2 separate regions of the Homo sapiens genome follow, and region 1 is linked to region 2. Evidence: fine-mapped expression QTL. Tissue or cell type: whole blood. Region 2 holds a variant in brackets; the other region holds the start of a gene. All regions are shown on one strand. Distances are between the middles of the regions.

The links. PIP is the estimated chance that this variant, and not a neighbour inherited with it, causes the effect.
Region 1: it holds the start of RAB34, and the variant in region 2 is fine-mapped to the expression of RAB34 in whole blood (INTERVAL, PIP above 0.99).

Annotation. Positions count from the first base shown.
Region 1 is chr17:28,713,444-28,721,545 of GRCh38, reverse strand. RAB34 (RAB34, member RAS oncogene family) reads left to right here and starts at 3,678. Exons shown (of 10, transcript NM_031934.6): 1 at 3,678-4,333; 2 at 4,552-4,643; 3 at 5,488-5,553; 4 at 5,645-5,746; 5 at 5,841-5,905; 6 at 6,039-6,090; 7 at 6,270-6,351; 8 at 6,424-6,514; 9 at 6,646-6,753; 10 at 6,836-7,262. The coding sequence starts at 4,280. The coding sequence ends at 6,903. RPL23A (ribosomal protein L23a) reads right to left here and starts at 1,561. Exons shown (of 5, transcript NM_000984.6): 1 at 1,516-1,561; 2 at 656-839. The coding sequence starts at 1,540. It overlaps SNORD42B (small nucleolar RNA, C/D box 42B), which reads right to left and starts at 996; the gene lies at 930-996. RefSeq lists enhancers at 847-1,006, 1,347-1,566, 1,997-2,046, 1,703-2,304, 2,305-2,905 and a silencer at 3,586-3,845.
Region 2 is chr17:28,424,751-28,432,852 of GRCh38, reverse strand. No RefSeq gene overlaps it. Among named protein-coding and RNA genes, the nearest start is that of SLC46A1, 23 kb to the right of the region's middle. The variant A/TTA (reference allele first, on the strand shown) is at 3,484.

The sequences.
Region 1 (8,102 bases), 290 kb before region 2:
CCCACTATCAATCAAGAATCAATCCACGTTCTCACCCTCAAGGATTGTTCCCGATAGCAGTAGGAGCTATGAGCAAGGAATCTCTGTATTCTACTTTATACTCCCCCCAAAATAAGTTTTCAAACCGTGACCACATGTGAAGCAATAATTAACCTAACAAATTTTGAGAGACTCAGGGTTTTTTTTTTTTTGAGACAGAGTTTCACTCTTATTGCCCAGGCTGGAATGCAATGGTACGATCTCCGCTCACCGCAACCTCCACCTCCCGGGTTCAAGCGATTCTCCTGCCTCAGCCTCCCGCGAGTAGCTGGGATTACAGACATGCGCCACCATGCCCGGCGAATTTTCTATTTTTAATAGACGCGGGGTTTCTCCATGTCACTCAGGCTGGTCTCGAACCCCTGACCTCAAGTGATCCGCCCCCCCTCGGCCTCCCAAAGTGCTGGGATTACAGACGTGAGCCACCGCGCCCGGCCTCTGGGCTGATCCTGCCAGTTTTGTAAATGCAGCAGAAACAATCTCCTCATACTTCCAATTAGAGAAGCACACTGGACACAATTTGCGTTTGAGAAACCATCACGCAGAGTGAGTGAATTTCCAAATTACCAATGGAGAATACCCAAATCTTTTCATGGGTACAGGGGGCAGTACTGACTTGTTTCTCCTGGGAGCGCTCTTCCGAGGATATTTGGGCTGTCTCCGGAGTCGCAGTGTCTTCGGCCGCCGGAAGGTGGGTGACGTGCGGATCTTCTTCTTTTTGTGGCTGTGGACACCTTTCAACACTGCCTTCTTGGCCTTTAAAGCCTTCGCTTTGGCTTCAGCTTTAGGAGGGGCAGGAGCTGGGAGAAAAGGAAAGAAAACGTGGGTGCGGGATTTAGAAATCGGTCACTTCCGGCCCCAAGAACTGCAGTGGGCCACCCTGGCCACAGGTGCATCAGTGGTTCCTTTGAAGACATCACAAGTGTCAGGAGATTAAAACTTTTCCATCATATGCACGATACCAGAGGCGAAAGCGACCAACTCTAAGTAACTCCAGGGATACGACTATGAAACAAAGTAGCACTGAATGAACGCTTGATACTTTCCAGAAAATGTCCTACGAATTTTACACATACCCCATCGCAAAACCACGCTGCGGAGAGAGGGGCGGGTAATGTAGCCCGGTTGAACATGAACCAGAAGGAAAATGGTTAAAGCTGAGGGCACTAATTCCTTACAGGCCCGGGGACATGGAGCTCCAACCAGTGGATGCATGTAGCTTCCCAGAACCGAATGTCTGGCCCTCCCTGGCGGATGATGCCTGCCGCGTTGCCCCCCCCCAACTCCCTCTACCGGAACTCAGCCCACGAGGCTGGGCCCACGCGGCCCACGTATACTGCAGCGTGTCCGAAACGCAGGGAGCAGCCCCGGAGCAGAGCCCTCAGGGCTTAGCCCAGCAGCCGTGTTCCCAATTCGTTCGCTCTGCGGCGCGGCAATCCCCGGTAAACCAGCTGCGGCCCCATCACCAACACACACCTTCCTTCTTCGCTTTCGGCGCCATCTTGTGAAAAGGGTCTCCAATGCTCGTTCCCACGGGCTTATAGCGCCAAAGAGCACTAAAGACTCGCGATGCTTTGTACTTAGAGCTGATTGGGTAATTTGCAGAGCGGCGCCCTCTGGGAACGGTAGTTAGGTTTAATTTCTTTTTCGTGCGTGAACAAACATGCGCCACTCCTCCCCTCAAAGGCACTAAAGCTTCATGGGGGTTGTAGTTTTTTGTTTTTTGTTTTTTGTTTTTTTTTTGAGCGCTCTGTCGCCCAGGCTGGAGTGCAGTGGCGCGATCTCGGCTCACTGTAAGCTCCGCCTCCCGGGTTTACGCCATTCTCCTGCCTCAGCCACCAGAGTAGCTGGGACTACAGGCGCGTGCCACCATGGGGATTGTAGTTTTTTGAAGACACGCGTTTATTTGCTCAGGCCAGCGGACGGCGTAGCCGGCTGGCGCTCGGGTCTGGTCCCGGGAGCTTCCTATCTTGAGCAACTGCCAGTCTCAGGGAAGAGGATTGCCATGCCAGGAGGCAGGAACGCTGCCAAGAGGAAAGAACACATTTGGATTGACTCGGGAGTTAGATACAGCTAAGTTCTAGAGTGCTGGAGCAGGATTTGCTCGGTCGAACTGAGGTCCAGAGAGGAATGTGGTTTATCAATAACACAGTGATTTGGTGGCAGAAAAAAATCAAGTCAGGGCCGGGCGCGGTGACTCACGCCTGTAATCCCAGCACTTTGTGAGGCCGAGGTGGACGAATTGCTTCGAGCCCAGGAGTTCGAGACCACCCTGGGCAACACGGCGAAACCCTGTCTCTACAAAAGAATACAAAAATTAGCCGGGCGTGGTGGTGCGTGCCTGTAGTCCCAGTTCCTTGGGAGGCTGAGGTGGGAGGATCGCTTCAGCCCTGGAGGTCGAGGCTGCAATGAGCCATTCCAGCCTGGGTGGCAGAGTGAGACCCTGTCTCAAAATAAATAAATAAATAAATAAATAAATAATCGAGTCACGAGGGGGAAGTGTCAGAGGAAGTACAAGGCGGCCACACCTGCCCCTCTTTACCTGCGACACTGATACTGTCAAGTTTTACTGCGTTTCCTGATAATGCATTTGAAGTTCTATGAAAATTCCACACATTTCTCCAAGATTCGCTAGTTTTTCCGGTTAGTAACTTCACTCACAATCCCCTGCCCTAAACTAGTCTTCCCTTCCGTGTCCTGGTCATCTTTACATCCTCAAATTCAGCTCCAGACACAGAGAAAGGTTTCTTAACACTCAGGTTCGCTTCTCCTAAGGTGTGTGCCTAACCCATCCCCACTTGATCCTTTCTTCTTCCCTCTCCCTTCATAAAACCAGACATGTCCCCTTTGACGGTGAAATTGATTGTGCACTGCCCCCTCTTCTATCCTGCAGGACTTTGCACAAAGGAGTTGTCCCTGGGGGATAGATTCCAATGGGGCCAGAACAATGAACACCCATACCAGAGGGGAGTCCCCGCCTCCCAGAGCGGAGACCACCCCGAAGAGCAGAGTTTCCGGGTCCACTTAGCCCTTCTTTAACCTCCCTCGAGGGAACTTGATCTTCAGCCCTCCCACCTCACAATCTACACAGCAGCCTTGAAGGAAAAGACGCCAGACTTCAGACGTCTCTCTCCTCGGTGGGCACCTCATTCTAACCCTGGCACCCCCTTCGCACGCTTCCCCTCCACCATCCTCACCCCCGACCTCCCAGGGCAGAAGGGCGAGAGGGGGCAGACTCTATGAGTCACCTCCCAGGCCTGGAGTTGAGGAGGGAAGCGCCGCCTCTCCTTGGGCCCCTTCTCTCCCCCTTTCCCCTCCCTGCTGGTTCCTGGCATCGCCAGATGCTGCGCAGCAGTCTCCGATTCCCCATCACCAATTCGGCTGGGTAAGGGTCCCCATGAAGGCGCAGCCGGGTATAGAGGTGCAGGGGAGAGCAGCCTGGGGAGTCCCTATCTGGATAGGCTCCAGCCTGGGTCGGGGCGGTCCTGGTGCCCGGTGAAGCGTCAAAAGAGGGAGCCTGAGCGGGGCAACGCAGAAGGGTGGAGAGGAGGGGGTGGCGAGGGCGGGCAGCGAGGCCTGGAGCCGCCAGGAGAGGGGCGGGGGGCGGCCCTTCTCCAGGAATTTCCGGGGATCGTGTTACAGCGTTGGCGGAGCCCGAGCGGAGTGGGACTCGAGGCCCTGTAGCCGGACTGGGCCCCTCGCCCCCTCCTCCAGCGGCCTGCGGGCCTTGGCAGCGCCGCCCCTGCCCACACTGACCCCGTGTGGCGGGGCCGCTCCGCGCCCCCGGGCCGCTCTGTAATGGTAGGGCAGCCTCAGCCCCGAGATGACGTCGGGTCTCCGCGGCCCCGGGTTATTGTAGGAACCATCCGGCCCCGCGTAATCGTAGGAACTATCCGGCCCCGCGTAATCGTAGGGTCTGCGCGGGCCCGGCCCCCACCAGACGGGACTCCCCGCCCCCAATTGGCGGCCGAAGAGTCTCCTCGCCCCAGAGTCATCTTCGGGACGCCCAGGGCCCGGGTGATTTTGGGCTCGCCGCGGCCCCGGGTGATTGTTTCATCTCCGTGGCCCGCGGTGGTCGTAGCGTCTCCGAGACCGCGGACTCCCGTAGGGTCCCCGTGGCCCCGAGTTGTAGTCGGGACACCCCGGCCGCGGGTGATCGTCGGGTCTCCACGCGCCCGGGTCGCTGACGCGGATCCGGCCTCGGCGCCTTCTCAGGGCGCCCTGCAAGGCCGCAGGCAGGATGAACATTCTGGCACCCGTGCGGAGGGATCGCGTCCTGGCGGAGCTGCCCCAGGTAGGCGCCGGGGCCACGTCGGGCTTCAGTCTACAGCCCGGGGTGTGGGCGAGGAGGAGGCGGCACCAGACCAGTTAGAGGACTGGGCCCAGCCCTGCCACCCAGCTAGGCCTGGTGCTTCTGGGTGGTCCCTGCACTCCACCCCTACCCGGGCCGCTTGGCTGCGGGACAAGGGCCAGGAGTAGGAAGCTCCATTCTCTTCCATCCTTCCCACTAAGTGCCTGAGGAAGGAGGCCGCTTTGCACGGGCACAAAGACTTCCACCCCCGCGTCACCTGCGCCTGCCAGGAGCACCGGACAGGCACCGTGGGGTGAGTTAGGGACACCCACAACAAAGAGAGGAGGTCCCAGGAAACTCTGTAGTCATAGCGAGGGTAAACAACCACCCCCTTGGGGCTTCATTTCAGCCCCTACCAGCTATATGGTTATTTCCCCCTCTTTAAGCCCCTGTATCCCCTCCTTTTCTCCCAACAAGGTTGTTGTGAGTTCTATGAGATGGGGTTGGGTAGAAGGGTGGCAGCTGGATTTCTGAGTAGAGACTAAGGTGTCTGAAATGGGAAGGTGGTCACCTGCTCAGATCCCCACATAGCATCCATGGAGCCCCAGGGCAGGGGTCTGGCTGTGCTTACAGGGATGAGTCTTATTGTGGGTTTTAAAGGTAATACTGATAACAGTTGGCACCATTAATTAAGCATTTGCTGTGTGCCAGGCAGTGTTGGGTACTATCATCTTTATTGAATGGAAAAGTCCATCACTTAAGATATATCCTGATTTCAGACATTAAAATGCGGGGGGGAGGGTGTCTTAGAATATAGGACATTTATCTCATTTTAACCTTCACAACGACCCAGTAAAATATATACTAACTTTACTTAAATGTTTAAACTGAGGCTTAGAGAGGCTAAATAACGTGTCCAAAGTCACACAGCTAATCAGTGTGAGAGCTGGGATTCAAATTCATGTCTCTCTGCTTCTGGAGCACAAAACACTCCTCCTCCCCAGCACACCTGTCCACGCAGCTGCCTGGGATGCCTGGTGTCTATAATACCCTCAGCCTGGGTGCAGCTACCTTTCTGGACCTAGTCGGGAGCATTGGAACTCCCTAGGGTGAAAGAGCTCGTGCCCACTCCCCTTGCCCACTCTTGTGTCCAGCAGATTTAAGATCTCCAAGGTCATTGTGGTGGGGGACCTGTCGGTGGGGAAGACTTGCCTCATTAATAGGTAAGGGGGTGCTGGAGCTGAGCTGGGCAGGGTGGGGCCAAGCCTAGCCAGGTGGGCTGGCTCCAGATCACAGCATCTGGTACCCTCTCAGGTTCTGCAAAGACACCTTTGATAAGAATTACAAGGCCACCATTGGAGTGGACTTCGAGATGGAACGATTTGAGGTGCTGGGCATTCCCTTCAGTTTGCAGCTGTGAGTGCTTCCACACCCCTTCCAGCTATCCCTTCTCCCCAGCACCCACACCCCCCAAGATACATACCTGTGCTTCACTCTTCCTTCCTTCCAGTTGGGATACCGCTGGGCAGGAGAGGTTCAAATGCATTGCATCAACCTACTATAGAGGAGCTCAAGGTAAGGGGCTGGGTGAAGTGGGGTAGGTGGGTCTCAGAGTGCACATGGCTTCTCATATGGAGCTGGAAGGATTGGGGAAATGAGCAGTAGTGTCTTCCCTGTCAACCTGGGGCTGTTTCTGCCACTCTTCCAGCCATCATCATTGTCTTCAACCTGAATGATGTGGCATCTCTGGAACATACCAAGTAAGTGAGCATCCTGCAATATAATGGGAGGCTCCGGGAAGAGAGGGTTCAGAACAGAGGGGTGGTCAGGAAGAAGAAGAATGCATGTAGGACCAGAGAGGGGGTAATTGGGCCTATGAATGTCAGTGGGAGGGGCCCTGCAGACTCACTCATCCCTTACTTTCCACCTCCCATGGCAGGCAGTGGCTGGCCGATGCCCTGAAGGAGAATGACCCTTCCAGTGTGCTTCTCTTCCTTGTAGGTTCCAAGAAGGATCTGAGTGTGAGTGTGCCAGTGGGGGGACTTCCCAGCTTGGTGAGGGAATGCCCCCCTCTGACTCTGGCCTTCCCTCAGACCCCTGCTCAGTATGCGCTGATGGAGAAAGACGCCCTCCAGGTGGCCCAGGAGATGAAGGCTGAGTACTGGGCAGTCTCATCTCTCACTGGTGAGTTGGAGGCTTTAGGGCTCTGCTGTGACACTCTTGCCTGGCTCTCCTCTCACTGCTACACCTCCAGCTGTGCCCTGTGTCCCCAGACCCAGCACTGCCCCTGAGCACCTATCTGCTCTCTGTGTCAGGTGAGAATGTCCGAGAATTCTTCTTCCGTGTGGCAGCACTGACCTTTGAGGCCAATGTGCTGGCTGAGCTGGAGAAATCGGGGGCTCGACGCATTGGGGATGTTGTCCGTGAGTGCTTGCCTGGTTGAGGGTGGCAGAGGGCACAGTGAGCCTCCAATCCCTGCTTCACATATTTTCCACCCTTCTTTAGGCATCAACAGTGATGACAGCAACCTCTACCTAACTGCCAGCAAGAAGAAGCCCACATGTTGCCCATGAGGGCTGAGGAGACTGTTCAGAGACTGCCCAGCCCTAGGGCACTGTGCCACCCTCATTCCTCCAGAGCTTGACCCCTGGACATTTGCACTGACTTTATCCAGACCAAAGAGCTGCCTCTTGGTGGCAGTATTCCCACAGAGGGGTAGCTGGGATCATGCTAGTCACTTCCTGCCCCCAGGCACCGTGCCAAAGACTGGATGCCCCCTACTCCTCAGGGGACTGTCCAGGGCGCCCAGTGGTAGTGAGGGAGAGTGTCTCTGTTCTTTTGCTCAGCCTGCTGGGCCCTTTGTGTTTGAGGATGCTTAATGATTCCAGCCTCTCACTGTGCCTTATGCATTAAAATTTCTTTGTTACGAGCACTTTGGGGCTGGAGTTCTTTGTTGGGGATGATGGATGTGGAATGGGCATGACTGTGTGGCCATTTTGGCACTAGAGTCCCCTGGGGATGCTGTGCTGGCCATCCCTGGCCCCTGGGCAGGTTCAGGTAGGCTGGGAGCTGAAACATCAGTTTGGGGGCTGCACTGGGCCCTCACTGGGTGAAGTCTGAATGGCTGGCTTTGAGAGCCCTTTCCCCTGATCCTTTCCCCACACGTGTCCTCCTACTTGGTGCTTATACCCAAATTTTCACCACTGGAGAATCTTTTTCTTTTTTTCACCCTTTTCTTGCCTTCCCTTTAAGAAGTACTTTTCCAGGCAGGGTGCGGTGGCTCGTGCCTGTAATCTCAGCACTTTGGGAGGCCAAGGCAGGCAGATCACTTGGATTCAGGAGTTCGAGACCAGCCTGGCCAACATGGTGAAACCCGCGTCACCATTAAAATCCAAAAATTAGGCCGGGCGCGGTGGCTCATGCCTGTAATCCCAGCACTTTGGGAGGCTGAGGCGGGCGGATCACGAGGTCAGGAGATAGAGACCATCCTGGCTAACATGGTGAAACTAAAAATGCAAAAAATTAGCCAGGCGTGGTGGCTGGTGCCTGTAGTCCCAGCTACTTGGGAGGCTGAGGCAGGAGAATGGCCTGAACCTGGCAGGCGGAGCTTGCAGTGAGCCGAGATGGCACCACTGCACTCCAGCCTGGGTGACAGAGCGAGACTCTGTCTCATAAAAAAAAATAAATAAAATAAAATACAAAAATTAGCCGGGCGTGGTGGTGCATGCCTGTAACTCCAGCTACTTGGGAGGATGAGGCAGGAGAATTGCTT
Region 2 (8,102 bases):
AAAATTATTCAAGTTCTCTACCATTCTCCTCATACCAATCATCCCCTTTTGTCTCATATAGTCCATTATCTTATTTCTATCTAGTTATTTTTCATAGCTTCCCTCAAGTTAAACATTATTATTTATCTTTTGTGCAGTTAATGTTTGATATACCTACTTGCTTATCAATTCATTGGCACACAACTCCTTCTTTCATCCCAAACCTTTTTTCCAGGATCACTTATTATCCTACATGGACCTATGAATTGAATGATTTGCGTCTTTCATGAATTCTGGAAACGACTCAGCCAATACCTCTGCAAAGAGCTGGGCATGGGCAACATAGCAACACTCTGTCTCTAAACATTTTTTTAAAAGGTCTACTCTAGACGCTCCTCCTAGAATTCAGAGTAGACCTATGTTAGACTTCATACTTTATTCTATCCTGTAGGTTTTATACCTCTATTTTATTTGCCTTTGTGCTGAATTCTGAGTATTTCTTCAGCTCTATCTTCAGTTCTTCATTTCACTAATTCACTCTTCATCTGTGTCCAGTCAACACAGATGATGTTTAGCCTGTCCTCTGAATTTGGTTTACTTTTATAAAAAAGCAAAACACAACAAAGCCAAATTTATCTATCATCTATCTATTTGAGACAAGTAGGAGAGAATGGGGTGGAGGAGAGTATATGGCTAAGAGAATTTTTTAAAAGATGAGATCAATTTAGCATGCGTAAATGCTGACAGGAAGGACCTGAGAGAGAGAGAGAGAGTCCAGGTTTTCCTATTCTTCCACGTGGAGTAGATATGATCCATTAGCAACTGTTGGATCTTCTATTGTTAGGCTTGGTTCCTAATTGTGATCCACAGCATCTATTCTACCTGATTTAAGCAGAAAGAAAGTTATTGGTAGATATCAAGTGGCTCAAAGAGGGCTGGGCATGGTGGCTCATGCCCGTAATCTCAGCACTAATCCCAGCACTTTGGGAAGTCAAGGTGGGAGGATCACTTGAGCCCAGGAGTTCAAGATGTGGCAAGACCCCATCTCTACAAAAAATAAAAATGTTAGCTGGGTGTGGTGGAGTGTGCCTGTAGTCTCAACTACTTTGGAGGCTGAGGCAGGAGGATATCTTGAGTCCAGGTGGTCAAGGTTGCAGTGAGCTGTGATTATGCCACTGCACTCCAGCCTGGGTGACAGAGAAAGACTTTGTCTCAAAAACATATAAAAAAATAAATAAAACAGTGAAATCACCAACAAAAAGCACAAAAATGTAAAAACCATGGCACTAAATAGACCTTGAGGGACATATTTACATTATGAGCTGAAACAAGACAGCAAAGTGTTGCTTTGTTTGACCTCAGCTGGGAATGTGTATTGGATAACTCAAATTTTCACTACATTGTATATGACCCTGAATGACCCCAAAATGCTGAGAAAGTGTCAAGAGTATTAATTTTGAGTCACACATAAATTTTAGCAAGTAGGAGAATTTGCAAATACAAAATCTCCATGTAATGAAACTATGCTAATGTTGGAAACCATTTGGGAAAAGGGGCTCTATTTCTGCCGGGGGTTGGGCTGAGAGGACAGGACCTAAGCTGGGCACTGCCTAGTTGTAGTTCCTTCATTCTTGCTGTATGATATCCCATTGTGTGAATACCCACAATTTATTTGTCTGTTCTACCTGTGATAGACATTTGGGTTGTTTCTAGATACTTGGCTGTCTTAGTCAATACTTGACATTTTCTGTTTTTTACAAAATTTTTTTTAGCCATTCAGATGTAGTAGTATTGGACTGCGGCTTCAATTTGTACTTCTGGTGATCAATGAGATTGTACAATGTTTAATGTTTTTTAGCCATTTGGATGTTTTCTTTTGTGAAGTGTCTGTTCAAGTCCTTTGCCCATTTGTAAAAATTGGGTTTTCTATCCTTTTCATACTGATTTTTAGTTCTTTAGATATCCTGAATATGAGTTCTTTGTCAGTTAAATGTACTACAAATATCTCCTATTCTATGGCTTGCATTTTCACTCTTTTAAGGATATCTTGTGAAGAATAAAAGTTCTTTTTGTGTCCTGTTGAAATAATCTTTGCTTACTCAAAGGCTATTAAGACATACTCCTGTTTTCTTCTAAAAAGCTTTATTATGCCAGGCATGGTGGCTTACACCTGTAATCTGAGCACTTTGGGAGGCCGAGAAGGGCAAATCACCTGAGGTCAGGAGTTCAAGACCAGCCTGGCCAACATGGCGAAACCCCATCTCTAATAAAAATACAAAAATTAGCCGGGTGTGGCGGTGCATGCCTGTAGTCCCAGCTACTCAGGAGGCTGAGGCAAAAGAATAGCTTGAACCCAGGAGGTGGAAGTTACAGTGAGCTGAGATCATGCCACTGCACTCCGGCCTAGGCAACAGAGTGAGACTCTGTCTCAAAAAAAAAAAAAAAAAAAAAAAGGCCGGGCGGTGTGGCGGGCACCTGTAGTCCCAGCTACTCAGGAGGCTGAGGCAGGAGAATGGCGTGAACCTGGGAGGTGGAGCTTGCAGTGAGCCGAGATTGCGCCACTGCACTCCAGCCTGGGTGACAGAGGAAGACTCCGTCCCAAAAAAAAAAAAAAAAAAAAAGAGCTTTATTATCGTACCATTTACAATTTATCTACAATTGATTTCTCTGTAGGAGTAATGTAGAAGTCAATATTTTTTTTCTGAATGGACTATGGACTTTCAATTGACCCAGGAGTACTTATTAAAAACACCTCTGTGATGCTTAATTTTTTTTTTTTTTTTTTGAGAAGGAGTCTCGCTCTGTTGCCAGGCTGAACTGTAGTGGCACGATCTTGGCTGGCTGCAAACTCCACCTCCCGGGTTCAAACAATTCTCCTGCCTCAGCTTCCTGAGTAGCTGGGACTACAGGCACGTGCCACCACACCCAGCTAATTTTTGTATTTTTAGTAGAGATGGGGTTTTCACCATGTTGGCCAGAATGGTCTTGATCTCTTGACCTCATGATCTGCCCACCTCGGCCTCCCAAAGTGCTGGGATTATAGGTGTGAGCCACTGTGCCCAGTGAATTTTTATATCAACTTAACTGGGCTAAGGGATGTCCACATAGCTGGGTGTGTTTGTGAAGGTGTTTCCAGAATAGATTAGCATTTGAATTGAAATACCGCGTAAAGAAGATCACCCTCACCAATGTGGGCAGGCGTCATCCAAGCCACTGAGGGCCTGAAAAGAACAAAATGCTGAGGAAGGGTGAATTCAGTTTCTCTATTTGAGCTGGGACATTCCTCTTCTCCTGTTCTTGGACATCAGTGCTCCTGGTTCTCATACCTTCATACTCAACCCGAATTATACCCTCAGATTTCCTGATTCTCCAGCTTGCAGGTGGTAGATCATGGGACCTGATGGTTTCCGTAATCATTTGGGCCAATTCCTATAATAAATCTCTCTTTCTCTCCACACACACACACATACACACACACACACACACACACACACACACACACAC[A/TTA]ACTTATATTTATATTTATATTTATGTATCTCCTATTGGTTCGGTTTCTTTGGAAAACCCTGTCTAATACAACCATCTTGAGGGTGGGAAGTATAAGAGACATTCCTATGGCTTATGAAGGGGATCTCTGAAAAATTAGAATTACTTTAGACACTTTTGGTTGTTAGACTGTTGTTTGTCCACAACATGGTCCCAAAACGAGGTCAGGTGAAGCACCAAAGTTTATTTTGCAATATTCTTTATCTCTAGGTAGAGTTCTAAATACATGGTTTTTTTTTTTTTTTTTTTGAGACAGAGTCTTGCTCTGTCACCCAGGCTGGAGTGCAGTGGTGCCATCTCGGCTCACTGCAACCTCTGCCTCCCGGGTTCAAGTGATTCTCCTGCCTCAGCCTCCCGAGTAGCTGAGATTACAGGCACTTGCCACCATGCCCGGCTAATTTTTGTATTTTTAGTAGAGATGGGGTTTCACCATGTTGTCTAGGCTGGTCTCGAACTCCTGACCTCAGGTGATCTGCCCGCCTCAGCCTCCCAAAGTGCTGGGATTACAGGTGTCAGCCACCACACCCGGCCTTAAATACATGTTTTCAAGATTTGGGTCAGGTGCAGTGGCTCATACCTGTAACCCCAGCACTTTGGGAGGCTGAGGCAGGAGAATCACATGAGGCCAAGAGTTCAAGACCAGCCTGGGCAACATGGCAAGATACTGTCTCTACAAAAAAAAAAATTTAAAAATTAGCTAAGCATGATGGCACACACCTGTGGTCCCAGCTACTCAGAATGCTGAGGCAGGAGGATTGCTTGAGCCCAGGAGTTTGAGACTACACTAAACTATCAGAGCACCATCGCACTCCAACCTGGGTGGACAGATCAAGACCCCCATCTCTAACAAAAACAAATGTATTTAAAAAAATTTTTTTAAAGAGATTGGGTATTGCCATGTTGCCCAGGCTGGCCTTGAACTCCTGGGCTCAGGAAATCCTCCCACCTCAGCCTCCCAAAGTGCTGGGATTACAGGCATGAGCTACCATGCCCAGCCTATTTTTAAAATGTTAAATAGCAATAGAATTCAGCAATATACAAAATAATTATACACAGTGACTAAGAGAGGTTAACTGTAGGCATGCAAGGTTATTTCAATATTTCAAAACCAAACAATGTAATTTCTTCGGCAACACTGAGGATATAAGATAAACACAAAAAAATCAATTGTGTGTCTCTATAAATTGACCCTTGAACAGCACAATTTTTTTTTTTTTTTTGAGATGAAGTTTTGCTCTTGTTGCCCAGGCTGGAGTGCAATGGCGTGATCTCGGCTCACCATAACCTCTGCCTCCTGGGTTCAAGCAATTCTTCTACCTCAGCCTCCCAAGTAGCTGGGATTACCGGCATGTGCCACCACGCCTGGCTAATTTTGTATTTTTAGAAGAGGCAGGGTTTCTCCATGTTGGTCAGGCTGGTCTCAAATTCCAGACCTCAAGTGATCTGCCCGCCTCGGCCTCCCAAAGTGCTGGGATTACAGGCGTGAGCCACCTAACTCGGTTGTGAACAGCACAATTTTAACTGTATGGGTTCTCTTGTATGCAGATTGTTCTCTATAAATATTTTGATGAAATATACACAAATCTATTTCAAAAGTTAACATTTATCGAAATATGTACACACAGATAATACACAGTGCCATTGCCATTTGCGGTCAAGAGAAATGTAAACAAATGTAAGGATGCAGTATTAAATCATAACTGCATAAAATTAACTGTAGCACAGACTATACCACTGTAATTATTTCCACCTCCTGTTGCTATTGTGATGAGCTCAAGCGTGTGAGTATCTGCTTACAATACCATATGGTGCTAACCGTCTCCATGTGAGCAGTTCGTGTCTTCAGTAAATTGCATATTGCAGTAAAAAGTAATCTCCTGCAGTTCTCATGTATTTTTTCCTTCCTTTCTTCCCTCCCTCCCTCCCTTCCTTCTCTTTCTTTCTTTTTTTTTTTTGACAGAGTCTCACTCGGCTCCCCACGATGGAGTGCAGTGGCGCCATCTTGGCTCAGTGCAAACTCTGTGACCCAGGTTCAAGCGATGCTCCTGTCTCAGCCTCCTGAGTAGCTGGAATTACAGATGCATGCCACCACACCTGGCTAATTTTTGTAGTTTTAGTAGAGACGGGGTTTCACCATGTTGGCCAGGCTGGTCTCAAACTCCTGACCTCAGGTAATCCACCCACCTTGGCCTCCCAACATGCTGGGATTACAGGTATGAGCCACCGTGCCCGGCCCAGGTAATTTTTTAAAAAGTGCCGGGATGAGCCACTGCAACCAGCCTTCTTCTTGTTTTTTTTTTTTTGTTTTTTTGTTTTTTTTTTTTGTTTTGTTTTGTTTTCCTGGGGAATAAGGTACAGCCTGACTTCTGGGGATACCCAATACATGGGGGTTAAGCATGGCAGGTGGTGGCTGGCTGGCTGATGGGGGTCTAGGGAAGAAGTGCTGGCAGTCAAGTCTGGAGAGAGTGAGAGGTCTTGAGTGATCAGAGAAACCCCAGCAAAGGGGTGTGTGCTGGGAAGGAAGTTCCTGGTGGGAGGGCATGTGAAATGTTGACAGGCTAACACTTTAATAGTGTGTACCTTTTGTCCCAGCGTAAAGCCCCACAGGGCTGAGGGTCTGGTCCCTTGAAGGGACACCACCAGCACAGTCTGATCCTTGCAACATCCTAGGGCAGTCCTGGTGCCTGTACTTCTACATAGGTGACTTGGAACGTGGCTTGCTAGATGTAACTGCTCATTCACAGGACTCGAGTTTACAGGACTCGTCATTATATAAGTCAACCCACCAAAAACCAAATCTGTGCCATGACAAGTCTTTGGGAAATATGCCTGCTTAATACTGGCTCACTTTCCAGATGTATACAGCTGGGTCCCTATCTGCCGGTTGGGGACTTTTTCCCTGTGTTGGAGAGCACTGTGGTACCAGGCGTGGCCACCAGGAGGGAAACAAGCAGCCTGGGCCAGGTCTGGAGGAAGTCCATGAGGACCCAAGGAGAGAAGGAAAAGGGAGGCAGCTGAGGCTCCCAGTTAGCAAAAAGCGGGGAAGCCTCCCGAGCTGTGGACATTGGAATTCGTCTTGCTGCCGAAGCCTGGTCCCTGGCATTATCTGTGGGGTGGTGAGCACTGAACCCACATATACTCCATAAGTCCTAGCCTGTCCCCAGGTGAGGTCGGCTCTGAACACTATGCCCACTCCCCATGTAGCCCCGGCCTGCTACTGCCCCGGCCTGGAAGGCCCTATGCCTACACCACCTGCCTGTTTGCTGGAGAAACTCTTTCCTACTCAACCTTCTAGACTCACCTTGGATACCTCCTGCTCCCGGAAGCCCATTCCCTGTCTGGAGCAGGCACTGACACAGAGCCCTGTACTTCCCCCATCGGAGTACTAGACTGTTGCTTCTCTGAGGAGAATATGTCTTGCCTCATCTAGCAGTGCCTGTCATGCTATGAATAATAGCTGGATGACTGAAAAAGTCATATTTTAAGACAGCAACAGGCATGGTGGCTCACTCGTCTGGTGGCTGTACTGAGCCACCGAGGATGCCCTGCCAGACAGGATGTTCTATGTATTATATGCCGTATAATATATAATACAGCCACACTCTGGCTGCACAGCTGCCTTCAGGATTACCTGCCGCAGGGCTCTGCTGCTCAGAAGCAAGCCACGAACAGACTCTGCCAGAGCCTGACCACACTTACCCTGCACAATGCACTAAATCTTCCCCATCCCGGCTTCCTTCATCTTCAGAATTTGCTCGAGGTATGACATAAAGATATCAGCATGGATAGCAACGTTTTCCCCTGATAACAATCTGTTCACCTTTCGATAGCAGCATCTCGCTCTGCCTGCCCCACTGGCTGCAGCCTTGCAGGAACTGTCGTCAAGATGCTTCCCTCCTTGCCAAGGGGCAGGCATGCAACGCAGGCCGGCCGGCCAGCCTCTCTAGTTCCCAGAACTGCCATCTTGGGTCGAGTGATGGAACAGAGTTAGAGCGCATGCCTCGTGATAGCAGCATCCTGTAAAGTGTGTTGGGTGGTTCCTGCTACCTGGATTCCCAGAATGATCCTCTTTCCTGTCCTACTTGTGTCCTGGTTGTTCAACATTCTTCGTATTCTGAGAGCTACCATTCAAAGAAATTCCTCAAAAAAAAAAAAAAAAACAAAAAAAAAACAAAAAAAAAAAACAAAAAAACCACACACAGCCAGAATTTGTTGCTATTCCCCTTGCAAGTAGAGAACATTAAATGTTACAAATGGGCTAAATCTAAGATGGTGACATGACATCTAAGGAATAAATGCATAGGCCAGAAAATGGGTCCAAAACCACCTGCACTTGGGCCACGTTGTGAAGTGAATGCAGGAGCAGAGCGAGGAGAGAGCTGGAGGGTCCCGGGAATGATACTGCATGCAGGAGCCACCAAGGCAGTGAGAGTGCCCTCTTCTCCCCAGTTAAGCCTTCATTAATTGGGACACAGAACCTGAACGAGTCAGGTGAAGCTCATGCTACGTCTGCAAGAAAGCCCATGTTGGAGAGAAATCTGGGAATTCCATCAAAGGAAGGGTGGTTGAGGGAGCAGAGT